Linked DNA regions of Homo sapiens: region 1 is linked to region 2. The links come from fine-mapping of genetic effects on gene expression. A gene starts in region 2. The other region holds a variant in brackets. All regions are shown on one strand. Distances are from middle to middle.

Region 1 (16,169 bases), 36 kb after region 2:
AGGAGAATTCTTCATGGGCAACATCTATTTCAATAACAAACTCTCTCCCCAGTGACTCATACTTATTTGTCTGCAAAGTTACAAAAGAAGATCCCCAGAGAAAGTGCTTTCCAAGTTGCTAGATGTAAGTTTAAGAAAGAAAATTTTTCCCTTAAGAAAAACGTGAGCTTGGTTTTAAACTTGAGGCTTGTTTTTAGGTCAAATGAATTGGATTTTTTCCTGTTGCTTTTCTAACAATGTAACGACAACGGTGAAGAAAAGGTAAATCATCATGTTAGTAAATCCAAGGATTTTGCCTCCAGGAAGTAGATAACTATTCTTGGGAAAAACACATAAAGAGTTTGTCCAGAAAAAATTAGTGTCAAAAATGAAACATCCAATGACACCAAAAGAGTTCAGTTTCCTGTGCTTGAGTCCCACACTTCTTATAATGATCAAATCAAGGAACTTTAGAATGTCCTATGTTCTGTCATTTTGTGCCCACATATTCCATTAAAAATCCAAGATTGGCCAGGCTAATTCCAGCACTTTGGGAGGCCGAGGCAGGAGGATCATCTGAGTTTAGGAGTTTGAGACCAGCCTTGGTAACATAGTGACACTTCATCTCTACTAAAATTAAAAAAAAATTCAACCCGGTGTGGTAGTGCACCCCTGTAGTCCCAGCTACTTGGGGCACTAAGATGGGAGGATTACTTGAGCCTGGGAGATAGAGGCTGCAGTGAGTCCTGATCATGCTACTGCAACTCCCGCCTGGGCGACGGATCAAGACCCTGTCTCAAAAGAAAAAAAAAGAAAAATCTAAGATTGTAAAATGTCAATATGATTCACTTGTCATTCTAAAGAAAGTAAAATCCAAATCCCTTAGAAGATTTTTCTTTAAAGTGACACAGTGATTTTTTTTCTCTTTTTAGTCACATTGGAAGTAAATGAGGATTGTAATCCACAAATATCTGAAGTTTTAATTTTAATTAAAATATATATAATGCATCTTAGCTGATTCTTACATTAGAATCACTATTTTTAATAAGCCTCACATTGAATACAAAATACATAAATATAAAACGCTTGGGGGAAAATATTACATTTTTTGAAACAAAAGGGAAAACGTGTTTGAAGAAAATGTGTTTTACATTGTAATGTCCAACTTGCACAACCATGTTTCAACTTGGAACTCATGAGTTATTTGGGCCATGCCCTCAAAATTCTGTTTAGCCTATTTTTGATTTCCTTTCAATAAAAGACAAGACAAGAAAGAAACAAAAACCAAAAGCCACCCTACTCAGGAATCTGGGAATGCCTTGATGATGGACTCATAGGCAGGTGGGGGCGGTGTTGAAAGGCCCACTCGAAGACTGTTACTGGACCAGTAGTCAGGACGGCTCAGACTGTGGGAAGTGCTGATGGTGGGAGAGATATTGGAAGAAGGGAGAGTCACCAGCTGACTCTCAGTTTCCACAGGAAGTGGTGGACATTGCAGAAAGGGATGGAAAGTAGAAGCTCTGAAACTTGATTTTCTTGGAAAGGAATTTGCTTGTTCCAGGGAAGCTTGTCGCTGGAAGGTGAGACTGGCCAGGCTGAGGTTGCTTCGACGTTCACAGCCACTGTGGCGGTAAAATCCAGTTCTGTTGAGGCCGTGGGTGTAAGAAGACCTAGATCTCCTGCTTGAACTCCACTGTGAGATGGGAGCACTGGCTCTTCTTCTTCGAGACAGACAAATGAACACAGCCCAAATAAATCCTCCAAGTACCAGCCCGATTGCCATGGATACAGTGAAGGACATGATAAGGTCCTCTGAAACAAAGAAAACAAATTGCTAAATCAATTTTTAAATAGGTTTTCAACTAAAAACAAGGGTCAGCATATATACTGTAATTCAAAGAATACATGATTAATTTAAACATACTTTGAATTAGGGAAATAGAAGACAGTGTTAGGTGGATATGAACAAATGGAAGCTGATAATGCTTCCATTTATTCAAGCAGAAAGATACAAAATAACACTTTCAGCTGCGGCATTCCAGGTCACTTAACCTGTTTTATCATCTTTAAGAAATAAAAGATAAAAGTAGTCTTACTTGATGTCATTAATTTATGGCATTTAGTTCATCCATTTTTTACAGAGCTGCAAATGTAGCCCAAAGTTGATTTCCTTTTGAGTTATAGTAGTAACTAATGTGCCAGATTGATAAAGAATTTTGTCATCACTTTGATGTTGCCTTTTCCTCTGTCTGCTTTCATCAATCACATTGATTTCTGCCACCTGCAGTCTTCATGATGCCTCACTTCCTTTGCTCTTTCTGAGACAGGAAGTGCTGGGATAGAACCATCTGGCCAGCTGACTGATTTATGTCATATTTCCTGAACTCCCAGACAGTCACCTATATCTCTGACTCTTTGATGACTTGACCTGTGCAGACTACTGGGCTCTTTCTTGTTTCCCAGGTTCCAGCTCATGCTTCTGTTACGCCCTTGTGATGATGAAATTCCTGTCACCTGAACCTCCATAGAGCCTCGGCTACGTACCAGTATTCTGTAATTTGTAGAACTTGTAATTTGTTCAGATTTCCCTTTCTGGGGAGAAAAATGCCTTTTCCTAATGGAAATGCTACCTTACTGCCTCTTGTAAACTAAATACATATTCTTGAATGAAACTAGGTAACTGAGTCTCCCCTCACCACACCACTTTGCAAAGAAAAATTCTGGGTATTAGAAGACTCCTCCAGCCTGTTGGTCCCCCACATTTCCCCTCCATGATCAAACCCCTTGTCCCCAACGTTTCCCCTCCATGATCTAACCCACAAGTCATGCTCGTTTCTCACTGTACCAAAGCCTGTCATTCTCTCTAAAACTCTGAGCTTTTCCACATATTTGTCCTTTTATCTGAATTCAATTTTTTAAGCTTCTGTCTGGAAAACTCATTCTTCAAGCTCTACCTTCAAGTATCACATCTTCAGTAAAGACTCCTACATTTCCTAGACAAAAATAAGTTACTGCTAAGTAGAAAGGTAAGCTATCATATCTAATTGCTTATGTAGGTAGTCTGTATTGAGAGAGCCATAGCCTGAAAATTAGCTGATGGGTGTTGTGAGACTGGGGAAGAGGAGGAGAAAATAGCCACAAACGTTTTGCTGTTCCTCCCATCAAGAGATAGAGTCTATTTCCCCACCCCTTGAATCTGGGCAGGCTTCATGACTTGCTTTGACGGTAGGATGCAATGGAATTGAAGCTATACAAGTTCAAGCCTAAGCTACAAGAGGCTCAGCATCCACCCTTCCTTCTCTTGGGACCCCTGCCATTGTCAGCATATAAATAAGGCCAGACTAGCCTGCCAGATGATGAGAGACACATGGCCCAGGAACCCCTACTGCCCTAGCCAAGAGCCTGCTAACCTGGACATATGAATGGTGTCATCCTAGATAATTCAGATGCTAGTCAACTCACCAAATGACTGTGACACATGAGCAAAGACCAGCAGAAAATCCACCAAGCTGATTTCATCTCAAATTACCAATCCACAGGATTGTGAGCTAAGCAAATTATTATTAGTTTAAGCTACTATGTTTGGGGGTGGATTGTTACATGGCAAAAGCTCTCTGATAAAGGGTTCCAAACTCAGCTCTGTTCCTAATATGTTTTGTGATTTTTAGGGAATTTGTTTAGACCCACTGATTTCATTATACATATATATAAAGGAGTTAGATTTTATGATTGCCAAGGTTCTTTTTAGCATATTGTAATCTATAATATGTAGACTACCTAGAATGCAGAAATAACAAAACAAACTAATGTTAATAACTACAAAGGAATAATCACTGCTGTCTAATTTTAGGATATAGTTCAGTGTCCTTCCACCATATATTGTCACATTTATCTCCTGTGGAAAAGCTACATTTATTGTGTCCTACTTTCACAATTATCTGTACAAATAATTATATCAACATTCTCTAAAGCAATGGCTTTATGCAAAGTTCCCAGGCACATTTTTTAGTGTATTATATCACTTAATCCTCAAACATCCCAATAAAGGAAATGCTAGCGTTATTCCCATTTAATAGTTGTGGCTACTGAGAGGTAAGTAACAAGCCCATAGTCCCACACCTGGTGAAGGTCAAGTAAGGATCTGAGACCAAAGCATCTTAATTCATAGTTAATTGCTTATTTATTTTCTAAGTGTAAGGTAAGAAAATATTAATCTAAAATGAAAATGAGCAATATAAATTGCATAAAAATTGGTCGATTCAATACCAGAGTATCTTGCAGCCTGTTATGAACAGAAATACTTGAGAGAATGGTGGTTAAATAATATTGTGTGTTCTACAGATATATTTCCATGAATCAATAGCCTTTAGTGGAGACTTTTAAATATCAACAAGCTCAGCTATGGACTCATAGAAATGGAGTTTCAGCTAAAACAAGCTTTTGAAAATGTGTTGGACATAAATTCCTCATTTTATAGATATTGAAACAGAAGCTAAGGTTCATGTGGTAGAATTAACACTTGATTTATTGTAATAATTGATTGGCAAGTATCGGTGGTTAGGGAACTATTAGTTACACTAGTGTATGATACAAATGAGAAGACAAATACTCAAATTTACAAAGTATATGTCCTTCCTATGTGTAAATGTACCTAACCACTACTAGAGTCTGACTGAAGACTCTAAATATCTCAGTATATAAGCAGGCATAATAGATAAAATGTAAAAAGAGATGTTTCCTTGATTTCAGCAAAATGGAGTTAAAACCAGAATCTGAAAGGAGAAAATATATTCAGTTACTCAATGAAAGTATTTAAAGATTACAAGAGTCCTTGTACATGGTCTCTGTGTACGCCCTTTGAGCCTCTCATCTTCTGACAAATCAGATATTCCCAATATAAATGTTATTTATAGTGGAATAATAGCAAACTTTAGATTCGAGAAAAAAATAGAAACTATTTAAATACACAATCAATGAAAAATAATTTCTTGTCTATTATTGTGATTGAGGCCAGGTGCAGTGGCTCATGCCTATAATCCCAGCACTTTGCGAGGCCGAGGTGAGAGGGTCGCTTGAGCCCAGACCAGCCTGGGCAACATAATGGGACCTGTCTCTACAAAAAGTAAAAATAAATTAATTAAATAAAATACAGCAATTGAGTATATTAGCAAAAACAACAAAAATACATGGAGTGAGAAATATATTTATATTTCAGATGACTGTTTTATTTCCAAAATACATTATTGTTCTGATGTAAGAAAACTAGGATAATATCCAAACTCTAATGGGCAAGTTATTATAGAATATATTGGACCATCACAATTTTCTTAAATGACAAGTTTCAGTTTGGGAACTAAAAAGATTATTTTTGTGGCACTAAAACTATAACAATATTTCCATGAGAGGAATTTGACAACAAACCTATTTAAAATGATCATTCTCTGTGGCTTGGTAATACTTTGATTTGATATGGTAAACCTATTGTCTATGCCCAAAATTTGGGGAAATGACTTAAAATGTCATCAAATATTGGGTTATATAGATATCCAAAAAGGATTAAATAATGAATTTAAAATGTACGTGAGAATCATAATAATAATATATACACACAATAATAGGCTATTTAAATTTTGAATGAATATAAAGTAGGATAAGATGGGGGTGCAACGGAAATTATACAAATTACAAAAAAATTGCTTTTGATATGGATTTGTTTAATTTTTGCTCAGTAGAGTACACGCATCATGAAAACGACTTCTTAATCCATAAAGTCAGTAAAATACACACTTTAGAAATTGCATTAGTCTGTTTTCATGCTGCTGATAAAGACATACCTGAGACTGGGCAATTTACAAAAGAAAGAGGTTTAATTGGACTTACATTTCCACATGGCTGGGGAGGCCTCACAATCCTGGTGGAAGACAAGCAGGAGCAAGCCACATCTTGCATGGATGGCAGCAGACGAAGAGAGCTTGTGCAGGAAAACTCCCCCTCATAATAACCATCAGATCTCGTGAGACTTACTCAGTATCACAAGAACAGCACAGGAAATTCCTGCCCCCATGATTCAATTACCTTCCACCGGGTCCCTCCCACAACATGTGGGAATTCAAAATGAGATTTGGGTGGGGACACAGCCAAACCATATCAGAAATCATTGCACTAATTCTTATACCTTGCAGAATATTAAAACACCTACAAATAATACTGCTGACAGAAGAATTTCTAAGACTTCCTGAGGTATATGGTAAAATACTTATCTATCTTCTTAAGCTCCCTTAAGTCCAAACAGCAAAGGCAAATGTAGAAATGCAGAAAGGCAATAAGAAAGAGATGCTGAGTCAAATAACAGGGGTGGTTTTCAT[A/G]CACATTTTTTTTTCATTTAATTATAGTTGATGATTTTTCTGACCTGCCCAAACTAGAATTTAGAAACTGTGTGATGAAAGCAGCATCTACTGGTCATACAGCTTTAAATTTTCATATATGTAATTCCATTCTGGCAGACTTTTGACAATGTATTTTGGGAGCCTTTTTTAAAACCTAGTGTAGAAGAAAATGTAACTGAAAAAAAAGACATTGGCAAAGATATTACTTTTTAAAAAATGATATGCCTTCTTACTTCTCAACAATCTAAGGAGAAGAAAAATGAGCCATAATCTTTCTTCTTAATAATTGCAATATAATGCAACTTATGAGACCAAATGATTACTTTTAAAAATGTTAACTTTCCTTTTGAAAGCAGAAGGAAAAAACTCTAACATTGGTCAGCTATGCCATATAAATTAAATATATGTCATCCTAATTTGTAATACGTACCTACAAAACTAGCAAGTAGATGGCACATAACAAGCCCTCAACGAACACTGGCTCTTACTGCTAATAGTTGTGTAATTTCCTCAAGTCATTTGACCCTTCTTGGCCTGATAATAACAGCCACGTTCGTGTCTTCCAATTTTAATATTGTAATATTGAATATGATTTTTAGTAAATATAATCAATACCTCAAATTCCATCCACTGGTATTAAAATTTAGTAGAGGTCACCATCTAGTGGCCTTGAGTTGAAGCATTCCAACTCTGAAAGTGATTTATCAGTGATGGCAGAATGTAACATTGTTTAAAACATTCAAAAACCCTTTGCAGTTGTTAAGAATCATAAGTTCAATGTTCACCAAAGCAGGCCATGAAGTCCTTGGTATCATAGAGTGTATAGGAGAATGGTTCAGGCAATAGAACTACTTTTGACGAAAAGGGCTTTTAGGGAGAATAATATTTAGGGCATAGAAATTTGATTGATTATAATAATTTAAACAGCCGAGGAGTATTTTCCATTATATCTCATGTGCCAGAACATCTTATTGGGTCTGTTTTCACAAACAAAAAGAAATCCAGAATTCAACTTCTCACTACCCACTCTGCGACTTCACTGATCCAAGTGGCCACATTCCCACATCTGTGACCTGGAATATGGTCTTCCTGCTTCTGTCCTTGCCATATCCCTCACACCCCAACAATGTGCTCAATGCAGTAGTCAGAGAGAACATTATAAAATGTAAGTCAAATCATATCAATCTTCTGTTCTAAATCCTCCACTTCTCCCAGAGTAAAAACAAATGCCTAAGAATATCCTAAAAGTCCCTACTTGATAGGCTCCCAATTATCTGAGCCCATCTCCTCTACTCTTCCTTTGGGTCACTGAGCTCTGTCTGCACTTCCCCCCTCACCATTCCTTAAGTACATCAGATGGGCTGGCTCCTGACTTAGGGCCCATCCCTGGTTGTAATCTATTCCTAAAATTATTTCCTCAGCTATCTGTATGGTTAATTTCAGGTCTTTTGCTTATATGTAAGTTTCTCATTGAGGTCTACCCTGGCTGCTCCACCTAAAATGACACCCTGTCCCACCTCTGAAGCCTAAATGGAATTCTTGTTTTTCTTTTTTCCTTCCTGGTTAATGGAAACTACATTCATTAATTTATACTCTAAGAAAATGTGAATGAGACGCATAACCATTATGAGCTGAAAATGTCATTATGTTTGAAAGATAGGAGGATAACATATATCTGGAAGGTTTAAAAAAGCTTCATGGAAAAAATAAATTGTAGATGCCTTTTTGTGAATGGTAGTGGTCAAATAAACAAAAGGCTTGGAGATTTGAAAGTAGTTTTGATCAAAATTATAAAGCACAAGCCATATTCTGAATATAATTAGTTAACAGTATTGCTAGAGGTGAGGGCAAATTCAAAAGTATCAAGGTAGCACACCCCTTTCTGTATATGATAGACTAACATGTATCAAACCAATGAGAGCAAGCGTACAATGGAGAATAAAATATTTTCTTAAATTTGTTTGAAGCCATCAGAGACTTATCAAAACTATTAAATCAAAGGAGCAAATTCCAGGAGAAAAGAAAATCTTTCATCACAATAATCTGTAAAAAGAAACAAAAATATCTGAGTAGAATGCTGTGCACTATAAGTAAGCTTAGAAAACATAAGTTGGTGTTCAGGGGCTGCCAAGGAAGTTGGACCCTAGGAAACATCCCAGAATCTGGAATTAGGCCCCCTAGGATCTACTCCCTAAGCTTAATGGTAAACAGGAGAAAGACCAGACCTCACAAAGATAAAAATATAGATCAATCCCAAGTTGGACTGAGGTGATCTTCCCCTAACTGCCAGAAGGAAAGTTTTATACATATATATGAAATAGAAAGTTATATACTTAAATAAATTTATATATACCTAATAATGTTATATATATATGTGTTATAAATAATAAATTACAAGTCATCCTAAGAGGCAAGACAAAGTAAACAAAAACTAAAAGAACAAATAGAAAATGGAAAAATATCTGTAAGTTATGAAAATATTTGAATTATCAGACAAAAATATTAAAATAACTTGATTAATGTGTTTAAAAAATTAACAAGTTAAAAATTTTCAGCAGAGATTGAGGATCTATAAAGAAAATTAAATAAAATACCTAATGAAAATTATAAAATATTTTAACTGAATTCTGATAAAATTGTGAAATATCGAAACATGTGAGATGTGCCTAAAGCCACATTCATAAGAACATTTATAGCTTTATAGGTATACATTTTAAAATAAGAAAGCCTACAAAAACAATTATTTCAGTTTCCATATTAAGAAGCTAGGAAAAGATCACTAGCTGAAACATAAGTAAAGTAGCATACAGTAAATAAGAGAAAGCAGAACTTAATGAAACAGGGGCAAAAAAAAAAAAAAAAGAAAAAGAAAAAATAGAGGAAATTATCAAAGCCAGATATGAAAAAAATCTAATAAAAATGAATAAAATACTAATTGGAACGACAAGGATGGAAAGAGGAGAGAAAGAGAAAGAGGGAAAAAGAGTGGGCAGGAGCAAGAGAAAGAGACAGAGAGAAAGAGAAAATCACCAATATCAAGAGTAAGAAATGTGACATTAGAACAGATACAGGCAATAAAAACATCAAGCTAGGATTCCAAATCAGCTTTTATGAACTGACCCTTTCAAGTAATAATGACTATGAACACTGAAAACAATATAAAAAAAAATTCTACCTAAAGGCCTTAAGAATGACCAAATGCTTGTAGCTACTGGAGAGGAGTTGAGACCTGGAAGAAAAGAACAGCAAGTACTAGTCAAGCTCCAGTTTTCAAACCTTTTAACCTGAGGGAAGCTTCCAGTCTGGGACAGGTAAAGCTACAGTCGAAAACCTGCACTGTTTCTGATCTTGAGAAACAAAGGACAGAGATTGTGGAAACAAGAGCTGCTGAGAATGTGAGAGGGAAATCCTGGAGAAGAGAAAGCCAGAGAGGAGAATCCCCAAATTTTATTTATAAACATTTCACATATCTTTGGTTGACTCCTGAATCACACATACGTGGGATGTATTCCAAACAGCACTAGAGAAAAAAAAATAAACTAAAGTGAGATTTAAGCTGCTGCCCAAGGGACAGGCTTTATAGGTTTCTGTAGTTGTAGTTCCACAGAGTTATTTGCCTGTGAAAATAAACTAGGGGGAAAACATACATCATAACACTCTTCAGGGTAATATAGCAGAATCCATTCAAAATGTTCAAGATACAATATGAAATTACTGGGCACATGAAGAAACAGGAAAATGTGATCCATTCTTAAGAGAAAAGACAGTCAACAAAAACAAACTTTAAGATGATCCAGACATAATTAGCAGACAAAAATTTTAAAGCAACTCATATGTCCATATTCAATGATTTCAAGTAAAACACTCACAATGAATAAAATGATAGGAAATTTCAGCAAAGAAATAGAAACTATAAGAAATAACAAAATGGATATTCTAAAACTAAAAAAATGAGAACTAAAAAATTTATACCATGAGCTTAACAGTGAAATTAAAATGAGAGAGAAAAGAATCGGCCAACTTAAAGGTGTATTAATAGAACTTATCCAATTTGAAAAATGGAGAAAAATATTGGGGGGAAAAAGCAAGCCTCTAGGCCTTGTGGAACTATATAAAAATATTTAACAAATGTGCAATTATAATCCCCCAAACAGAGGAAAGGGTGGATGGAGCTAAAAACATTTTGAATAAATGAGGCTGAAATTTTTCAAAATTAGTGAAACAAATTAATCTACAAATCAAGAGTCTCAGTAACATCAAGCAGAATATATATAAAGAACTATGCACGTCATAGTCAAACAGCTGAAGATCAAAGGTTAACAAAAAAAACTTGAACACAGCCAAATTACAAATAATAATAACATTACATTCATAAAAGACAATTATTTAAATACTCACTTTTAATAAGACACGGTGATATTTTAAAGTGATTTTAAAAAAGCTGTCAACTCAGAATTTTATATCCAGCAAAAGTATCCCTTAAGTATAGTAGTGAAATAAATACTCTTTCAGGGGGAGGAGCCAAGATGGCCGAATAGGAACAGCTCCGGTCTACAGCTCCCAGGGTGAGCGACGCAGAAGACGGGTGATTTCTGCATTTCCATCTGAGGTACCGGGTTCATCTCACTAGGGAGTGCCAGACAGTGGGCGCAGGCCAGTGTGTGTGCGCACCGTGCGCGAGCCGAAGCAGGGCGAGGCATTGCCTCACCTGGGAAGCGCAAGGGGTCAGGGAGTTCCCAGGAATTGAACAAGGATACCCAGGAATTGAACTCAGCTCTGCACCAAGCAGACCTAATAGACATCTACAGAACTCTCCACCCCAAATCAACAGAATATACATTTTTTTCAGCACCACACCACACCTATTCCAAAATTGACCACATAGTTGGAAGTAAAGCTCTCCTCAGCAAATGTAAAAGAACAGAAATTATAACAAACTATCTCTCAGACCACAGTGCAATCAAACTAGAACTCAGGATTAAGAATCTCACTCAAAGCCGCTCAACTACATGGAAACTGAACAACCTGCTCCTGAATGACTACTGGGTACATAACGAAATGAAGGCAGAAATAAAGATGTTCTTTGAAACCAACGAGAACAAAGACACCACATACCAGAATCTCTGGGACGCATTCAAAGCAGTGTGTAGAGGGAAATTTATAGCACTAAATGCCTACAAGAGAAAGCAGGAAAGATCCAAAATTGACACCCTAACATCACAATTAAAAGAACTAGAAAAGCAAGAGCAAACACATTCAAAAGCTAGCAGAAGGCAAGAAATAACTAAAATCAGAGCAGAACTGAAGGAAATAGAGACACAAAAAACCCTTCAAAAAATCAATGAATCCAGGAGCTGGTTTTTTGAAAGGATCAACAAAATTGATAGACCGCTAGCAAGACTAATAAAGAAAAAAAGAGAGAAGAATCAAATAGACACAATAAAAAATGATAAAGGGGATATCACCACCGATCCCACAGAAATACAAACTACCATCAGAGAATACTACAAACACCTCTACGCAAATAAACTAGAAAATCTAGAAGAAATGGATACATTCCTCGACACATACACTCTCCCAAGACTAAACCAGGAAGAAGTTGAATCTCTGAATAGACCAATAACAGGCTCTGAAATTGTGGCAATAATCAATAGTTTACCAACCAAAAAGAGTCCAGGACCAGATGGATTCACAGCCGAATTCTACCAGAGGTACAAGGAGGAACTGGTACCATTCCTTCTGAAACTATTCCAATCAATAGAAAAAGAGGGAATCCTCCCTAACTCATTTTATGAGGCCAGCATCATTCTGATACCAAAGCCAGGCAGAGACACAACCAAAAAAGAGAATTTTAGACCAATATCCTTGATGAACATTGATGCAAAAATCCTCAATAAAATACTGGCAAACCGAATCCAGCAGCACATCAAAAAGCTTATCCACCATGATCAAGTGGGCTTCATCCCTGGGATGCAAGGCTGGTTCAATATACGCAAATCAATAAATGTAATCCAGCATATAAACAGAGCCAAAGACAAAAACCACATGATTATCTCAATAGATGCAGAAAAAGCCTTTGACAAAATTCAACAACCCTTCATGCTAAAAACTCTCAATAAATTAGGTATTGATGGGACGTATTTCAAAATAATAAGAGCTATCTATGACAAACCCACAGCCAATATCATACTGAATGGGCAAAAACTGGAAGCATTCCCTTTGAAAACTGGCACAAGACAGGGATGCCCTCTCTCACCACTCCTATTCAACATAGTGTTGGAAGTTCTGGCCAGGGCAATCAGGCAGGAGAAGGAAATAAAGGGTATTCAATTAGGAAAAGAGGAAGTCAAATTGTCCCTGTTTGCAGACGACATGATTGTTTATCTAGAAAACCCCATCGTCTCAGCCCAAAATCTCCTTAAGCTGATAAGCAACTTCAGCAAAGTCTCAGGATACAAAATCAATGTACAAAAATCACAAGCATTCTTATACACCAACAACAGACAAACAGAGAGCCAAATCACGGGTGAACTCCCATTCACAATTGCTTCAAAGAGAATAAAATACCTAGGAATCCAACTTACAAGGGATGTGAAGGACCTCTTCAAGGAGAACTACAAACCACTGCTCAAGGAAATAAAAGAGGAGACAAACAAATGGAAGAACATTCCATGCTCATGGGTAGGAAGAATCAATATCGTGAAAATGGCCATACTGCCCAAGGTAATTTACAGATTCAATGCCATCCCCATCAAGCTACCAATGACTTTCTTCACAGAATTGGAAAAAACTACTTTAAAGTTCATATGGAACCAAAAAAGAGCCCGCATTGCCAAGTCAATCCTAAGCCAAAAGAACAAAGCTGGAGGCATCACACTACCTGACTTCAAACTATACTACAAGGTTACAGTAACCAAAACAGCATGGTACTGGTACCAAAACAGAGATATAGATCAATGGAACAGAACAGAGCCCTCAGAAATAATGCCGCATATCTACAACTATCTGATCTTTGACAAACCTGAGAAAAACAAGCAATGGGGAAAGGATTCCCTATTTAATAAATGGTGCTGGGAAAACTGGCTAGCCATATGTAGAAAGCTGAAACTGGATCCCTTCCTTACACCTTATACAAAAATCAATTCAAGATGGATTAAAGATTTAAACGTTAAACCTAAAACCATAAAAACCCTAGAAGAAAACCTAGGCATTACCATTCAGGACATAGGCGTGGGCAAGGACTTCATGTCCAAAACACCAAAAGCAATGGCAACAAAAGACAAAATTGACAAATGGGATCTAATTAAACTAAAGAGCTTCTGCACAGCAAAAGAAACTACCATCAGAGTGAACAGGCAACCTACAACATGGGAGAAAATTTTCGCAACCTACTCATCTGACAAAGTGCTAATATCCAGAATCTACAATGAACTCAAACAAATTTACAAGAAAAAAACAAACAACCCCATCAAAAAGTGGGCGAAGGACATGAACAGACACTTCTCAAAAGAAGACATTTATGCAGCCAAAAAACACATGAAGAAATGCTCATCATCACTGGCCATCAGAGAAATGCAAATCAAAACCACTATGAGATATCATCTCACACCAGTTAGAATGGCAATCATTAAAAAGTCAGGAAACAACAGGTGCTGGAGAGGATGCGGAGAAATAGGAACACTTTTACACTGTTGGTGGGACTGTAAACTAGTTCAACCATTGTGGAAGTCAGTGTGGCGATTCCTCAGGGATCTAGAACTAGAAATACCATTTGACCCAGCCATCCCGTTACTGGGTATATACCCAAATGAGTATAAATCATGCTGCTATAAAGACACATGCACACGTATGTTTATTGCGGCACTATTCACAATAGCAAAGACTTGGAACCAACCCAAATGTCCAACAATGGTAGACTGGATTAAGAAAATGTGGCACATATACACCATGGAATACTATGCAGCCATAAAAAATGATGAGTTCATATCCTTTGTAGGGACATGGATGAAATTGGAAACCATCATTCTCAGTAAACTATCGCAAGAACAAAAAACCAAACACCGCATATTCTCACTCATAGGTGGGAATTGAACAATGAGATCACATGGACACAGGAAGGGGAATATCACACTCTGGGGACTGTGGTGGGGTCGGGGGAGGGGGGAGGGATAGCATTGGGAGATATACCTAATGCTAGATGACACATTAGTGGGTGCAGCGCACCAGCATGGCACATGTATACATATGTAACTAACCTGCACAATGTGCACATGTACCCTAAAACTTAGAGTATAATAAAAAAAAAAATAAAAAAATAAATACTCTTTCAGGTGAAACAGAATTCAAATTAATCACCAGCACACCTACACTAAAACATGTGCTGAAGAAAATCCTTAGTCTGGGGATAATGAAAACTGGGATCTTTAAGAAGAAATTGAGACCATCAGAAATAGTATCAGAGTAAATATAGAAGACTCTTTTCCATCAATTTCTTTAAAATATATTTTTCTAGCTAGAGCAAAAATTAAAATATTTTCATATGAAATGTATAGTTTATATAGATTTAATATGTAATAATTATAATACAAAGAATTGGGACAGGATATAAATAAATCTATTAGCTTGATTGATTGATTTAGTTTTTAAGAGATTTTAGAGACAGGGACTTACTATATCATCCAGGCTGGTCTCAAAGTTTTGGGCTCAAATGACCCTCCCACCTCAGTCTCCAAGTAACTGAGACTACAGGCACACACCAATGCACTCAGCTATTAGCTTGTTTTTTATATTGAAAATCTTATGTATTCTAAAATATAACTACAAATTATATTAAGCAAGACTGCAGAATGTAAGACTTATATATAAAAATACGTTTATATACTAGCAGCAAACAACTGGAAAGTATAATTACACCATTACAATAGCATCATTAAGCATAACATACCTAGGCATCTTTTTTTACAAAATGTATGCAAGATGTCTGCACCACAAATTTTGAAATACTACTGAAATAAATTAAAGGTCTAAAAAGTGGAGAGATATACTATATTTGTGAATTACAAGCCTCAATATTATTAAGATGCCAACTGCCCTTAAATTTATTTATATAAATAAATTTATATAACTAAATCAACTAAAAGTCCAATAAACAGGCTGTTTGTATTATTTTACAAATGACCCTAAGTTGTATATGATGACAATACAAAGGAACAATAAAAGCAAAGCTGGAAGCATCACACCACTTGATTTTAAAATATACTACAAAGCTATAATAGTCAAAACAGCAAGGTACTGGCATTTACATAGACATTTAGATTAATGAAACATAATAGGGAGGAAGCCCAGTAATAAATCCATGCATTTGTGACAATTGGTATTTGACAACAGTATCAAAAATGCACAATGGGGAAATTATTGCCTCTTCAATAAGAGGTAATGGGAAAACTGCATATCCACATGCAGAAGAATAAAACTGGACCCTTATCTCATACTATATAGAAAAATCAAGTCAAACTGGATTAAAGATACAAACCTAAGACCAGAAACCCAAAAAACTACTAGAGGACAACATAGGGAAAAAGCTTGATATTGATCTGGGCAATTATATTTTTGCATATGACAGCACAGGAAAAAAGCAAAAATAGACAAGTAGAATTGTGTCAAACTACAAAGCTTCTGCACAGTAAAGGAAATAATCAACAGAGAGAAGAGACGCCTACAGAATGAGAGAAAATATTTGCAAACCGTATATCTGATGAGAAGTTAACATCTAAAGTATATAAGAAGCTCACACAACACAAAAGC
Region 2 (16,169 bases):
ACATTCAAATTTAGACACACTGATTATCTGTTCTACTCTCCTGAATAGTTAAGTACACTCTATAAATAAACACATCAATTTTGCTCTATTACTACTCTTCCAAAAACGTCTCATATAATTGGAATTAACCTAGCATTTACTTATCATTAAATATATTTTTTTGTTAGAAAGGATATACAGCATATGAAATTGCAGGCTTTTTATGAGTTAAAGACAAAATTTAGAACTCTCAAATACTATTTACAATGTAAACTTCACAGTTATTACATTAGCTAGAATACATCACAACATTCACAACACAATATTTTTATTTGGTTTGGATATTGAAGTTGTTTTCTTGAATTACTTATGTAGAACTCAAAATTTAATTATGTTGCGTATCATTTTCCTTCAAGAATTCTGAAAAAGAAAAAATTGTTGCTTTAGGCATAAAATATATTTTATTTCTAGCATCTTAGTTTCATTCACTGATTTACTTATCTGATAAACACTTATTTCTCTTTGTCCCTTGTTAACAGCCTGTGGCAGGGGATCATGTCCTGGGACATACCAAGAGAGCAGCTTCTAGAGGACTGATTATCAGAGAGGAACTGGAATGTGAAAAGACGTCTAACTAACCATTATTAATGATTCACTTGTAATTTTCACTAATGGATGACCCACATGATTTCCTCTTCAAAGAATTTGTCCAAAGCCACCCATTTAAAAAAGAAAAGAATGGAGGATGGAATCTCATAAGTGATCTTACCATTTACAAAGCACAGTGTGATTAATCAATTCTCCTTTATATTTTAGTGCCTACCGTGTTTCTTAATTTGATGGAGAAGCCTTCTTATAAACACTCTTAGAAAAGCTATATGTAATTAACTTTCTTCTTTGAGCAAAGGGACTTGTTTCTCTGAGATGTCTATAAAAGATAAAGAGTTGATGTGGGCCACACTCCTGCCTCTGCTTTCTCTTAGAGGTCTAAGGGTAATTAGTGGACAAAAGCAGTCAATTAAGCAGGTATCTTCCCAGACACCATGTCCACTCTTGATGACTGTTGAAAACCTTAGATAACCCCATCAGGAACTGAGGTAAGGCCATGAATTGCCTTTAGTTTGAGCATGGGTGAATTTAATCTCCTTAACCTAGTTAGGGATTGGAATCTGGCTCACCTTCAGGTTTTATGAATAAAGTTTTATTGGAACACAGTCACTCCTATTCGTTTTACATCTAACTGTGGCTGCTTTTGTGCTACCATAGCAGAGTTAAGTCACTCTAACAGAAAATAGATGGCTCACAAAGCCAAACATATTTTACTCCATAGCCCTTTAAAATCTGCTAACCTTTGATATGGTGACAGCATGAAATTTCTTTAAGCACTTGCCCAGTATTATAGATTTTTTATGAGCGAATGTGAATATTAATGTAATGTAACTCAGGAAAGAAATATGTCTTGAACCCACATTTATATAAAATCAATTTTGATAGCAAGCTTATTACTTCACAAAGAAAAAAAGTCTATCCATGTTTTTTCTGCTCAAAAAAAATGTTGGCAGAGAATGCTATTAGAGTCATATAGGTAAAACAAACTTACAGGTAAAACAAGCTAAATTTAACTTTTGCTCTATGAAGTTTGCCATGTTTCAAGGAATATAGTTAGACCCAGAATGCCTTGATATTTTCATAGTAATGGGCCATGCTCTAATTTGGTGCTATTTCCCTATACTTAATTGAGGAGCTAACAGTCAATTGTGAGACTAAACCTTCAATTAATAAAAGCAGCATGGGTCGATCCTCAAAAGGAAAGCCCATTTTTCTTGTCAGTGTGAGTCAGCCTCCTCTGTTTTTTTATCTTGATACAAAGGTAGAAATAACCCCAAGTAAGCCAGGAACACTATTCAGATCTCAAAACGTTTGCTTATTGTGAGTGCTCTCTTTTACAAGATCAAAAAAATTTCATGAATCATTCTAAGCTGTTTACTGGGTTGGGGTCCACTGTTGTAGAAGTGTCTGTCTTGGATGAGGTCTCATGATGAGAAACTATTTAACCCTAAGATGTTTCTTACTAAGTGACTCTTAGCTACTTATATAATCAGAGACAGCCATAAGAATACAGAAGGAATGCACGAATATACCCACCACTGGGAAGTTGTCATCAGCTTTGCTCCAAAGGTCTTTTTCATCATTTTTCTAACTCTTCTGGAAAGTCGGGAGATTCTCCCTCACTGCTGCAGACCAGAAAAACATTGTACATATTAAGGCTCTCAGATGAGAAAGGGTCTAAAGAAACTATTATGACATAATGAATGTGCTGTTCTCTGTGCTCTGAAAGTGTATGGGGAGGCTAAACAATTATCTTTGAGGTTTGTTAGTACCTATGAATTATTCATCAATCTTAGAGTTTCTAAAATTATTCTCACAGAATTATCATCTAGTGGGCAAAGAGGTCATCTTGTCTGATCACACCCAAACAGAATTATCCTTAATACTCATCACTTAAACAAAAACAATTGGAATAAAAAGACAGAACACTACACTGTTTATGTATTGTGTCCAATATTTACACACCATAGAGAGATATAGATTTTACAGAATCTAAATATACAAAATACCTAATGGTTTAATTTGATTAAATAACAGTAGTGAATATGCACACGAAGTGAGTTCCATGTGTTACCAAATTGCAATTGACTATGCTTTACATGTTTTAAAAATCATCACTTTTGATGAAACTTGCTCTTAGATTCAGACTAGATGTCTGTATAGTCATCATTTTTAACACTGGCAGCATAGTAAAGTCAACTGGGGAACTCTTAAAAGAAATGTATGTCTAGGGCCACACCACCGAAGACACCGATTTCCTGGCAATTGGTTTGGGAGAAGGCCCAGACATCTGTATTTTTAAAGTTCTGCGGGGTAGTCTAATGTCAGCCAAGGTTGAAAATCACTGCTTCACGTAGTATAGCTAGATAAGTGAGATAGAGAGGTCTCCATGTGCAGCTTCTATTTTGAAAGTCAGTCATGATTCCTCATTTTAGCAAGTTCTCTTTTTCTTTACCTCCTCTTTCCATTCAGAATTGAGTTCAAATATTTCTTTACAGCCATTTGTTTTCTAAGGCGGGTATAGTTGTCAGTGAAGACTGCATCTGAGTGACGTTTGACTGGTACAGGGTCTTCTGAGATGTTACTGCTAAGGAACATGAGGAAAAGGAAATCAAAGAGTTTTCACAAGAAATGATAAATACACACATGTTCCAGGTTTCTTGGAGCCACATAAAAAGCAATTCCCACCCAACTAATTTTCTATCATAAAAAGACTAAAAGAAAAATACAACTAAACCTAAGGATGAAGGAAAGCAAGGAATCATCTGCCATATTTTGGCATGGCCTGGGACTGTTTTATGACACATTCTGTACAGCTGAGCAAATAATTCATCCAAAAATAAAAATTTGGGAATAGCTGAAGTTGTGCTCTGCCATTGGGAGAAATTTTTTTTTTTTTTAAAAAAAACATAATTACTTCTTTAGAAGCTATGCTACCCTGAGCAACGTCATCTAAATATTTGACTGTTGGCCATTTGGAATTCTCCATTTAATTTGAGCAGGAAGTAAAAAGAATATTCTGTTTGACCTTAAAATTTACCTCAGTCTGTACTATCTCTTTTTGATTGTTTTACTGAGTCTTGTTCAATTTGATTGCAGATTGCTAAATGATTGCTACTTGAGAAAAATGTGTGTCTGGAGTCAATGAATATGATATTATGAAAAAGTCTTAGTCCATGGGCTTGATAGATGTTATTGAAGAATACAAGTTATTTCATTTAACTAAATTAAACATTATCAACGAGTTTTCAATTTCAAACAAAGTAAATAACTTGTTAAGAGTGAAAATACAATATTCAGATTGAATAATGATAACATATTTTATAAAAATAATAAATTCTCTTTACCTAACACGTTTTCCCATAAGAGACTCAAGGTACTTTTTGGCAGAAAGTTGACCCAAGAGTTTACTGAAGTCACTGGTGAAAACTCCATCAGCATGCCTGGCATTTCTAAAACAAGGAAGAAAAAAATAGCTATTATTTTGTAAATGGCTTTCTAGAATATTATTATGGCTTATTAAATAACAAAAAAATTATGGGCTTATTATGAAAGCTTCTCATTAAAACTAAAGTTCAAAAGGAGATTTCTTAACACCCTAACAAAAGAGATCTTCTAGTCACTTATATCAAGATATACCCTATATTTCTAGCCCAAGACACTGAAAAATTAAAGAAACAGGCATTTCTAGGAGCACATTTCAATATTCCTCCATGGTTGAATCTTTATAACTATTTCTTTCTAAGAAATATTGGTGTAAAAATATGATCTATTTAAATTAGCTGCTATTTGTACATGGTGCTTTGTGTCTGCCCCACTGAATAAAGACATTCACAATGGGAAAATATTCTGATTTTGGAAAGTTCATAAACCCCAGTACACCTTTTTTTTTCTTTTTCCAAAATATTTGGAAACAAAATCTCTTAAGATAGAGAAGGCATTAAGGCCTATCATCCCACCTTTTCTCTTTCAAATGAAGCACCTTTTATACTTTGTCTGTACCAAGTACTATAGAGCTACTTGGTCTGTACTTGAAATGATGCTCTAGACAAACAGCTCTATGAATGAACAGCTCTATCAGGTATCTTTTCTTTATATAGAGACAAAACTCCTTGGCAACTCTTCCATCATTGGAATGCTAAATGCTGTACTTTTATCAGAATTGGTACAATCTGTGATGTTGGAATTATGTGCAACAGAATGGAAGTGAATGGTGTGTTCATCCTGGCTTGTTACAACCTTTCAGTATGAAAATTATGTACAGCTGTAAGATCTGCAGTAAATCAGGATGAATGAAGCCATGACACATAGAAACCTCTAGTGTTTTGCTATCGGAATAGCTTCATGGTGAGATAAAATAAGCACGTTTATAGTTCTTAAACACATTTTCTAAAATAAAACTCATTGGATAGTTTTATAAAAATAAACTCACCTGGATACATCATAATAGGGTGTGTCATTTTCAGCTAATGCATTTTGCAACATGTCAATGTCTTCTTTTAATGAAACTTGATCAGGTTCATTTGCTCCCTCAAAGGGTATTCTGTCACCCAACCTGATGGGGAAAGTTACACGAGAATAATACATTCTTTTTTCAGAAGACAGTGTGTATGGTTCCGCAACCATTTAAAATAAGATACTTAGACTCTTGGGAAGTATTACCCAGTCATAATATGAGAATAGCATAATTTGACTTAATGGCTCATATAGTTAATGAGAGTATAAATAGGAAATTCCTATTATCCTATAAAGTAGATGCCATATGACTTTTATAAGCTGAATATACAAAACACAAGAGCTACTTAATTCAATCTTATCAGAGCATTAAGCAAACTATACTTCTTTGGTGTAATTTACTATGCCAAGAATATCTTCACTTTGCAAAGTCAAATTTCGTATGTAGAAATATTTTATGCAAAATAGAAACTTGCAAAAAACTAATATTGAATGAGAACTGATAACAATTTATGGATTTGGTGATGTTCAGTATTACCTGTTCCAAACATCTCTGAAGAACAGAGTATTAACTGCTTCTCTCTCTCTCGACCCCCAAGCTTTGCTTCAAATATTTACTTTGGCATTATATATTTCTCTGTATTGACAGAGTTCAAAGAATGTCTCCATAGATGGATAGCTCATCTATGAAGATGAATTTGAATTCAATAAGTTTTATGGGGCCTTCTTTTTTCTAATCTTATGTATTAACACAACTTTAATAAGGGATGTACAATGTTACACTGAAAGACTAAGAATAGTCAAATGCATATATGGAATATGACTATATTTATGGATGCATGCATATTTCAATCACCGGCAACTCTTATAATTTTGTGTGTGCAGATTTTCACTGTTAGGGCAAACATCCAAGGAGCGTGTCAGCTCCTGGACACTTGTGTATCTTTCAGTGATTTGGGAGTTGGGAGTCACTAGCAACTAGTCCTCTGTGGGTCTGAAGCTTAGCAATCAACACAAATGTCCACATTCTTGTGATTGTTCATCTGCTGTGGTAGAACTATTCAGATAGAACCATTTTGTTTAGTTATCAAAGCAACGCAGGAGCTGTATTTAAACAGATTTCACAGAGAACACTAATAGCTAAGAGGTTATTCTCTCTGTTGAGCATAAGTCTACCTTAAGCAAAAAATCAAGAATGACCTAATAAGCAAAGAAGGAAACCAACCCAATTATTATTTTTCCTTTGGAGATACAGTGGTGCCCGTAAACTGAAAGGAAAATTCAAGCTAATATAGTTTTCATTTATTGTTTACTTCTTTAGCATACATTAATAAAGTTTTAAATAAGAGTTGTGTTATACTTTATGGATTTGGAATATATAATATAACATATAGAACAATAAAACTAAGGATTTATGGTCCAAACAAAGTATATCAAAATTTTCCTATTGGGGGAGTGTATCTCAATAGATCAATTACCCCATATTTAATATTGGCAAATTGACTCTGCCTAGATAGATTTCTGTGCAACATGATTTTATACATGTTTCACTAATCAACTACTAGTCTTATGATTATTTACTGATTAATCTTGAAAATAAACTCAAATGTGGTTGGCAACTAAACAGCTTTTTTCCACCAGAAATTGAACTGACTTGAGATAACAATGGATAAAAGCTTATTATTTATCTAAAGATGGTTTTGAATAAAAAGAAAGTGAAAGCCTCCTTTCACCATGTTTGGGAATGTGATCCACTCAGCCCATAAAACTAATAACTGACAGTGTCTCTCATGCCCTGAAAGTGAATTCCAGGACTCAGAATGACCTGATGTTGACAAACACCTCTCACTCAACACATCAAGGAAAAATTTAAATACATAATACATAATTTATACTATTTAGTTGTCCAACAAAATGTATAGGAAATTCCCATTTAGATGAGGAAGGAATGTTCAGATGTTTGAATTGAAAGGGAACTTACCTGAGAGCAGAAGGTGCCCTGTAAAGAGGCCATGCCGAAGTCTGTGAGAAGAGCACACTGAGAAGAGTCAGGAGCACAAGGAGCTGGGCCTTATTTCTGGTGTCCATTTCTGTGCCTCTAAAGAGAGAGAATCACCTCAGTTCTTCCAGCCAAAGATGTCACCAGCAAGGTAATTCTGATTGTCTAGCAGTAATTTTCAATGGCTCTTGCAGAGTTTGTAAAGAGTAATTTTCATCTTGTAGAAAGAGTTAAATTGCAAGATGATACATTCAAAAATCAGTATTTCTCTCAGTGACAGGTGCTTGAATAAAAATTAGAATCCTTTTCACCTGCTGTCTGGGCACATGGTTGGCCCCAGTATCTATTGAATGCCATACTTCTATAGTGCTGGAAATAACCCTGGGGACAATCTTTTCATAACAGGGATGTACCACTCAAGCTTAGTGTATTTTTTGACGAAGGAAACAGCTTCAAGACATTGATTTTCTTCTGCTTTAAAATTTCAGTATCTGACTAATATAAGACTAGAGTATCATCTATTTAATAATTATTCTGCTCGTGTGTGTGCAAATGTATAAATATAATGTGTATATATACATATAATTTTAAAAAAGATTTTGTATATACATTACTTTTTCCTCTTTCAATTGTAGATATTACGGAAACTTATTTCCTTACACCTGGATTTGAACTTCTTAACTCAGTAGTGAATATTAATACTCAAAATATTACTGAATCATATGTTGTCATTGAAATAAATTTTTCCATAAGAGGAAAATATATATTAAAAGCAAAGCTTGCATTTCTTGCATTTAATCAACTTACACATTTCATTTCTAGTTTCTAGATTAAAAGCCTAGGAGTAAGGTCTGTTTCTCTTGCTGCCTATAAAAATTATGGAATTTAAACTTAAGGAAAAAATAAATGCATCTTAGATTCACTTAACCAACATACGAAATAGGAAAAAAAAAGCACTTTAAAAATAAGTTGAAAATTTCAAAAGCAAATGTTCCCACTGAAATTTTCAGTCAAAAATCTACATACAAGTAAACTTTACTTGAATGAATTATTTGTAAAAATCAGTATTCAGTAAAAGAGCAAGCAGGGTAAAGCATCTTACAAACAAAAGAATTCAGAAAATCTATCCATATGAGAGAAATTGAAGTATTTCTATCCTTACCAGGTGACTTGAGAAACTTGTTTTTTGCTGTTGCAAAAGCAAAGCACTATCAAATTCTTTTCAAGAGAGAAAAATTCATTATTTTGTGAGAAAAGTTCCAGAGGCAGGAGGGAAAAAGAAGAGGAAAGGTAAAGTTTTCACTTACCTCGCCCAGTCGTGCTCCCCCGGAGCTGACTGTTCTGGTTTGTTTTGGAGCTGTCTTAGGTGCTGAAGTCCTGGGAGTAAGAGAAAGGCTCCACCAGTTCTCTGCCCTTAGCAATGGCTAAGGGTTGGCTGTTACTGCCTGCTGGTGCTTCTCACTCTACCCTGACCAGCATTTCAAAGCCCATCATTTTATAGGGCTTATACTTAGGACTGAGCAATCACAAAGTGCTCTGAAAGACGTCACAGTATGACGGCCATGGGATGAATAGGGCTTGAAGTTCTTACTTAATTGTCATTATGCCTAATTTATATAAGTTTATAGTGAGCAACTTCAAAATGTAAGATAAGAGGAAATTTACTTTTCTTTAAACAAACAAAGTAGCAAGCTCAATGTGAAATGTTTTAACCTTTAATTAATTGTAAAATAAGAAAATGATTGTAGTGTTATAGCCAGGGCCATTGGGATTCCTTCAGAAAATAAAGACTTCATGTGTAGAAACAAATGCATAAAGCAACAAACACTTATGTTCATTACGCTTATAAAAGTATAATTATACTTTATTACAAAGTATCAATTCTCTTAATATTTTTAATTTTTATGCTATTCATATAGTTCCAGATTTAATCTTTCTTGAAATCTATCCTAACTTTAAAAGCTCTAGAGATAATTTTCACCTTCCTATTATTACATTTCGTCTTTGTTGAAACTAATTCCAAGATAAGTGTTTCAGAAAGTCTCTAAGATAGTAAGATATGCACGCTGTTGTACAAAGCAGTACAAGTAGTGCTATTTCATATTTGTATAAAATGGCACAATTCCCAATGCACTTTTACATACACTGTGTCAAATGATCCAAAAAATAAATTGTTGTCAGGCTATATACCTCAAGGAATTTAATTGTCTTTTCTTTTTAAAGATTTTCCTCATCACTTTTATAAGTCTTTGCATAATGTAGAATTAGTTTTCTACCCTCATCCCCAACACACACACATACTCAAACCAGTTTTGAACATTTCTGATTCAATCACTTGACAGGTGGCTTCAAATAGTTGAAAAGCATTTATATAGTACTTTGATAAATACTTCACTTCTATTTGTGGATTTGTAACTAAAGGTAGTCTAGCACACATTCAATCAGAGTTTAAGGTAAAAATGCAGCCACATGAAAAATTTCCTAAACAACAGAGGAAAATGCCATTTTTCCTTTTATTTTAAAGGCTTTCTGCCATGTGTATTATTTTTACATTTTGTTTCTAAGTTTCATAAGACAGAATGGCTTTACAGTCCTCTTTCTTCTACTTTAAGATTGTAGTATCTATTTCCTTCGTTCAAAGTCAGACTGATCCAGTAAAAGAATATCCTGCTATGCTTAATCATATTTTCTAATCCAGTTACCAGAAAAATTAAATGAATTAAGTTTCAAAATGTCTGGAAATTTGTTTCCCAGTTGACAGCTCTGACTTAAGCCAGAGTTCCTGTGGCTTAATTCCAGGAAATCTTTTTTACCTGATTATTACAAACTAGAGGTTGAAACAGTTCTCATATGGAATTTTTTTATCCTTAGCTCTTCATCACCCAATTCTTAGTGAACCAATTTTATTTAAGAGCAGAAACAGCAAAGCAACTTAATTGAGGGTCACAGACAAATGACTGCTGAATGATAAGAAGAAAAATTTTAAACATAAAAGATGTAAAGCTGATCATTATTTGGCCTAGGCAAGCACTTAGCATTTACAAAGAGTAACTATAGTAGCTTTTCCCAATACAAAAGACAATTGCTTCTATTATAATAATAATAAGATAAAATAAAAAGAAATAATTCAATTTTATTACCTCTGAATAAAAGTAAACTCAACCAAACAACTGCATTTTCTCTTATGAATTTAAACTAGAAAGCAAAACAATTTGAAAATGGAATCATAGCACCATCTGCAGGTTCAAAGTTTTAATTCACAGACTTTATAGAATTGTGTTTATTTCTTCTTTTCTTTCAAGGAAATGAATTGTAAACCAGAGGTCCTGTAGCCAGCTTAACTTTTGGATGCTTCCAGAAAAAATAAACATAAGAAAAAGTACTGCAGTCAAATTTATCCTGAATTCTCGGTTACCATAAAACTTAGTAAATAAGTACAAAGATACAAACTTGAATTTACTGTTTAAATGTGTCTTTTCCGTACTTTGACATATTCTTCCATAATTTGCCTACATTTCTGGCAAAGTTTATTTTTGCCTTAGGCCTTCTCAGTAAAGTGATGTTTGTAATAAGGGGAACTATAATTCATTCACATGGATAGAAAAATCTTCAAGATCCTTCTTTTACAAATAAGTAAACTGATCTCCAGAAAGTTTCAGTAATTTTTGCCACTCAGGTGGTTAATAACAAATACGAGATTGGAAGATAGACCGTCTGATTTTGAGTCAGCATTCTTTCAATTTAGAATTGGTAATATTCTGTAATTGTTGCTATCACCTTTTTGATGCTAGCAGGTCAGATATGGAAATTGACAGCTCATAAAAATATTGGCATCTCCTCTCCCCTTTTTTCACCAACAGAACCAAGAGCAGGGAAATAAAACTGGCATTCTAAATTCAAACATACTGGATGCAAGGAAATTAGATGGAAGGGATTTTCAAGCTCAGGATATTAGCAGAAATCCAAATTTGCCTTTTTTTCTTTAGTGCAAAATACTAATAGAGGGTCCATATTCTTATTATGGATTAAATGCCTAAGCTTGTGCTCTTCTGCCTCTTTTTATGGTGGTTTTACCTGCCTAATTCACCCTATTTCACCTCCAGTCCTGAGACTTAGCCAATGTCTGCGTTGGTAATCCTGAGTGGGTAAGTCTAGATCAGAGGTCTGGAAACTACAGGCTGTGAGCTAAATAGACTGACCCCTCTGGATTTTGTTTGTTTGTTTCTTCATTCATTTGTTTTTGTTTGTTTACATCTCTCAAGCTAAGAATGATGTTTATATTTTTAAATGGTTAAAAAAATTAAATGAACTTTTTGTGACACATGACAATTATACGTTATTATTTTATTTTATTTTGAGACGGAGTCTCATGCACTCTATCATCCAGGCTGGAGTACAGTGGTGCAATCTTGGTGCACTGCAACCTCTGCTTCCCAGATTCAAGCGATTCTCGTGCCTCAGCCCCCAGAGTAGCTGGGACCACTGGTGCCCACCATGTTGGTCGGGCTTTGGTCTGGAACTCCTGAGCTCAAGTGATCCGCCTGCCTCGGACTCCCAAAGTGCTGTGATTACAGGTGTGAGCCACCTCCCTGGCCAAAACTTATATATAATTTAAACGTCAGTGTCCATAAATAAAGTTTTGTTGGAACATAAAAGCATTTCATCATATATGTATTCTCTATAGCTGCTTTTGTGCTACAACGGCAAAGTTGGATAGTTGCAACAAACTGCACAGCTCTCAAAGGTTAAAATAATTACTATTTGATCTTTCACAAAAAAAGTTTTTCAATCCCCTAGATCCTCCTGTTTGGCAGATATTTAAGATGATATGTTTGCTTTAATAGTCTTAAATCCAATATCTTTCAATAACTTGTATTAGGAAATATATATTTGCGTATATATATTTTATATACCTAATGTATAATGTATTATGTACTGTATATGTTATATATACATAAATACATATATTCTATACAATATATTATACATGTATATATGTATAACATACAGAATATATACATACATTTAATATACATGTATACTTTTACTAAAAGTGTACATTTGCATAAGATGTATATACATACGTATATTTGTATAGCATATTAAAAGTTTATATATTTAAAGCATCTATATTAGAGTATATATAAACACTTTCAATTCTTTTAAATTAGAAAATTTGAACTTATTTTCAGGATTTTGTATTCTTGTCATATTAGTGATTTGATGAAAATAATATTACAATAAAGGTAAATTTTCCCTTTAAAGTTACCTATTAGAATTCATTTCGGAATCTAAAAATATATCAGCAAATATAAAGCAAAACAAATAATGATCTAAATGATATGATCGAGGACAACTTCTCCCTTAACTCCAAAACCTCGTTATCTGTCCCACTTACTGATGCTGAGTTTAGAGAAAATTATTCCTTTGTCTCAGAATTTTTTTGCTTCAAATCAAATTACATGTAGAAAGAACAATGCAAGTGCTGCAAGTCATTCGAACTTTATTAGGGTTGTATGTATCAGACGATTTCCTGAAAATAGATTTCAAAAAGAAGGGTATAGAGAAATCACAGGAACACACAATACTAAGATGTGGAAGTTGAAAAATAGAGTATTAAAGATTTTAAAACCAATTTTACCTACTTCACAATGTCATCTCTTATGTATATGTTCCCCCACCACATAGAGTAGTCCTCCCTTATCTGCAGTTTCTCTTTCCATGATTTCAGTTACCTGTGGTCAACAGCAGTCTGAAAACATTAATGGAAAATTCCAGAAATAAACCATTTATTTGCTTTAAACTGTGTGCCATTCCAAATAGCATGATGAAATCTTCTGCCATCCTGCCCAGTCCAGCCTGGGATGTGAATCATCCCTTTGTCCAGCATATCTGTGCTGTCTATGCTACCTCCCAGGTAGTCACTTAGCCAATTTGTTGACAGATGGAAAATACATGGTTTATGTAGGGTTAGGTGCTGTCAGTGGTTTCAGGCGTCTGCCGGGGTGTTGGGAGATGACTGTACACATTCCATGCAACCAGCCTTCAACTCAATCACCCTCTGTGTTTACTATATGGATCAAATGAAAAACAACCATGTCTAATTTCTGGCTTTTAACCTTAAGAAAGCTGCAGTCTAGATGTTAGAATGAAGATTTGGCAAGAATATTTTCTGAGTGAGTTCTCATGGCCCCTCTACCACTACATCTATTCTCCACAGGCCAGGGAAGAGCCTCTGAGATGGGGAAGCTGGTGTGAGTTTATGGTAGAGTGGAAGGGATGGATGACAGAACCCTGTGTTATCAAGTGTAGGGGCTGAACAATAGAGGCTAACTTGGCTTCATTTCACATCTGGTTGACATAAGACAAAGCAAATCATGGAGAAACACTCTGCATAATGGTACGGGAGACAAACCTGGATGATAGTTGCACACCCTGCTTAGGAAAACCCAAAATACCATCCAAGGAACAAAGAGTGGAAAGGGCCTAGCAACGGACAGGTTTTAAACAACCTACCAAGAGCCAGCGTGGGTGTCCACACCCAGGGACCAGATGTCACTGCATATTTCAGTCGATGACAGCCAGCCCTAGACCATCTCCAAAGTGCCCAGAGGAAGCCTCCCAGATTTCACATTGCTCTGTCAGAAGCTTAGATGCTACTCTGAGGGAAAAGAGGAGACAAATCCTCTTTTCAAATCTGAAAGACAACATTTGAAATGACAGAAAATCTGAAATGATAGAATTTTAAATCTGAAAAGTATTGCCTTTACCTAGAAATGATCAAGTTAAACTTTTTTTCCCCTAGACTTGGAGTCTGTCTCTGTAACCCAGGCTGGATGGCAGTGGCACAACTGTAGCTCAAGGCAGCCTCCAACTCCTGAGCTCAAGTGATCCTCCTGCTTCAGCCTCCCATGCCGCCAAGATTACAGGTGTGAGCCACTGCACCTGGCAGAGGTAAACATTTTTAAAAACAAATTTTTGTGTTCATTTTACTCTGTGGCCTGTGAAAATATATACTCACCATTACTTTACAATGGCCTTGAATTGTGTATAGTCATGGTTTGCCTGGGAAGAGCCTGCCAGGGACCCTATATCCTACTTAGTGTTAAAACCAGTTTCAAAGAGGCCCTGGGACCGAAGCTTGGTAACTTTGAGATTTGTCCTAGAATGGAGCACGGGGGCAGGATGGAGGCCTGCCCTGACCCTGGAGGCCACATGTCTCCCTCCCTCTCTTTGTTCTTCAGTTGTTCCAGCTGGTCTCCAACTTTGCCACCTGGTTCCTCACCTTAGGCTTCTTCAACCCATTCCTTGGCCCTAAAGCTAAACCTGTTTCTTTCAGTTTGCCTCAGCCCTAGAGGACCTCCCAGGAGCCCTGAGTTTCGGCTTACTCTTGGGAGAGATCTGACGCCACAGGCTCTCCCCCCAGCTCCCGCCTCTGCTGGGAACCCTCTCTGCTCTTCTTCACTGTTTCTATTTCCTTGAAGGCTGACCTTTATGGACTACATCGTCCACACCCTGGTCCTCTGGCTGCTGGCTGGGCTCAGCAAAAGAGACGTGCTGGTTGGAAATGAAAGGACCAAAGAGGAGGGAAAGAGAGTTCTGGGTATTTATTCCCCTAGGCCATGGCTTGGAAGAGACTACATTCCTCCCGCAAGATTCAGTTTCTGCAGGGTGGCCTCTCTCCTGCAGCCCTAGAGGGGCCAACGGCTCCCTGCTGAGGCTCATTCATGGATTACTCGCTACCTCACTACTTCTACCTCTTTATTAAACTCTCCTCAATTCTACCTCTTTATTAAACTCTCCTCAATTCACCTTTGGAAAGAGCCTTGAGTCCTTCCTGGACCCTTCCTAGTGTACTCCCATTCCCACACCCAATATTTAATTTTAGGATTGGATAGCTTCAGAAGGCCTGCATGTTTTAAAATTTTTGGTATTTTTCATTTGAGTTGGAAGAACTCTTAAAATAATCAATGTGGGAACTTGGAGGAAGGGCACTCTAGCCCCGAGCCGGTCTGTCCAATTGGTGAACAATTGATTTCTGAAGACTGCTGCTGAAACACAAATACATTAGAAGTTCATTCAGGCCCTTGATGCTCCTCGAGTCCCCTCCAGGAAAAGAAGCTGGATCCATTGCTGACACAATTGCAGAGAAAAGGTCAATGTGCTGCCAGAAGCCAGACACCAAATCCTCATGGGGTCTTTGTGAGGAGGTGTAGAGTAGCCTTGGGAAGGAGACTTGAGGCAAACTGGGCCCTGCGTCTCCAGGGCTGCTGGCGCCTGGCCCTCAGGAAAGAAACTCTCCCTGTCAAGGAAGCAGGAGCTGCAGCTATTTGATAAGCTTTTAAAATCACCATTCTTCTTAATCATATATTCTAATATCCTGTATCTGTAGTTACTTCCCTGTACTTCCAAGTCTGGAACACTAATGTTCTCATTTCTGACTCATAAAACCATCATTTTCAGCTAGAAAGAATTTAAGGTAATTTAGTCCTGTCACTTTGTTTTGAGAAATTTTAGCAACTTCATAACTGAAAAAAGGCAAGTGACTTCCAATGAGTAGCGGAGCTGAGATCTGGACCTTTCACCTTTCTCTTCAAGTGGGTTGTGAGGCCAGCAAATTCAAAACCCACAGAATAGAGCATGGAGAGTGGGGAGTGGGGCATGGTTGCCTTGCTGCTGTGACCCTCCGGATTTACCGGGACGGTTGAGCAATGTGTAGTGATGATGTTAACAGGCAGTTCAATCCAGTGATTTACATTTGCTTGCAAATAGTTCTTACCCCAAATGACAACCAAAAGAAATGTTGTTGAGATGCATCCTAACGGGGAGTCGCTTCCTAGGTCCACACTCCTTTCTGTGGCTGCAGTGCCTTTAGGGTGTCTCAAAGAAATACCACGCAAGGGCCGGGCGCAGTGGCTCATGCCTATAATCCCAGCACTTTGAGAGGCTGAGGCAGGTGGATTGCTTGAGGCCAGGAGTTCAAAACCAGCCTGACCAACATGGCATAACCCTATCTCTACTATAAATACAAAAATCAGCCGGGCGTGGTGGTGCATGCCTGTGTTCCCAGCTACATGGGAGGCTGAGGCAGGAGAATTAAGCAGAATTGCTTAAACCTAGGAGGCAG

Evidence for each region. PIP is the estimated chance that this variant, and not a neighbour inherited with it, causes the effect. A credible set is the group of variants that fine-mapping cannot tell apart.
Region 1: its variant is the best candidate, but not a certain one, in a credible set for the expression of VIP in spleen (GTEx, PIP 0.53).

What each region holds. Positions count from the first base shown.
Region 1 is chr6:152,707,364-152,723,532 of GRCh38, reverse strand. It overlaps MYCT1 (MYC target 1), which reads right to left. Exons shown (of 2, transcript NM_025107.3): 2 at 1-1,791. The coding sequence ends at 1,280. Among named protein-coding and RNA genes, the nearest start is that of MYCT1, 18 kb to the right of the region's middle. RefSeq lists an enhancer at 1,145-2,344. The variant A/G (reference allele first, on the strand shown) is at 6,345.
Region 2 is chr6:152,743,140-152,759,308 of GRCh38, reverse strand. VIP (vasoactive intestinal peptide) reads right to left here and starts at 8,512. Exons shown (of 7, transcript NM_003381.4): 1 at 8,350-8,512; 2 at 7,025-7,141; 3 at 5,021-5,143; 4 at 3,936-4,040; 5 at 3,044-3,175; 6 at 2,125-2,213; 7 at 1-399. The coding sequence starts at 7,131. The coding sequence ends at 2,168. LINC02840 (long intergenic non-protein coding RNA 2840) reads left to right here. Exons shown (of 5, transcript NR_183508.1): 5 at 519-4,433. It also overlaps a transcript of MYCT1 not described here.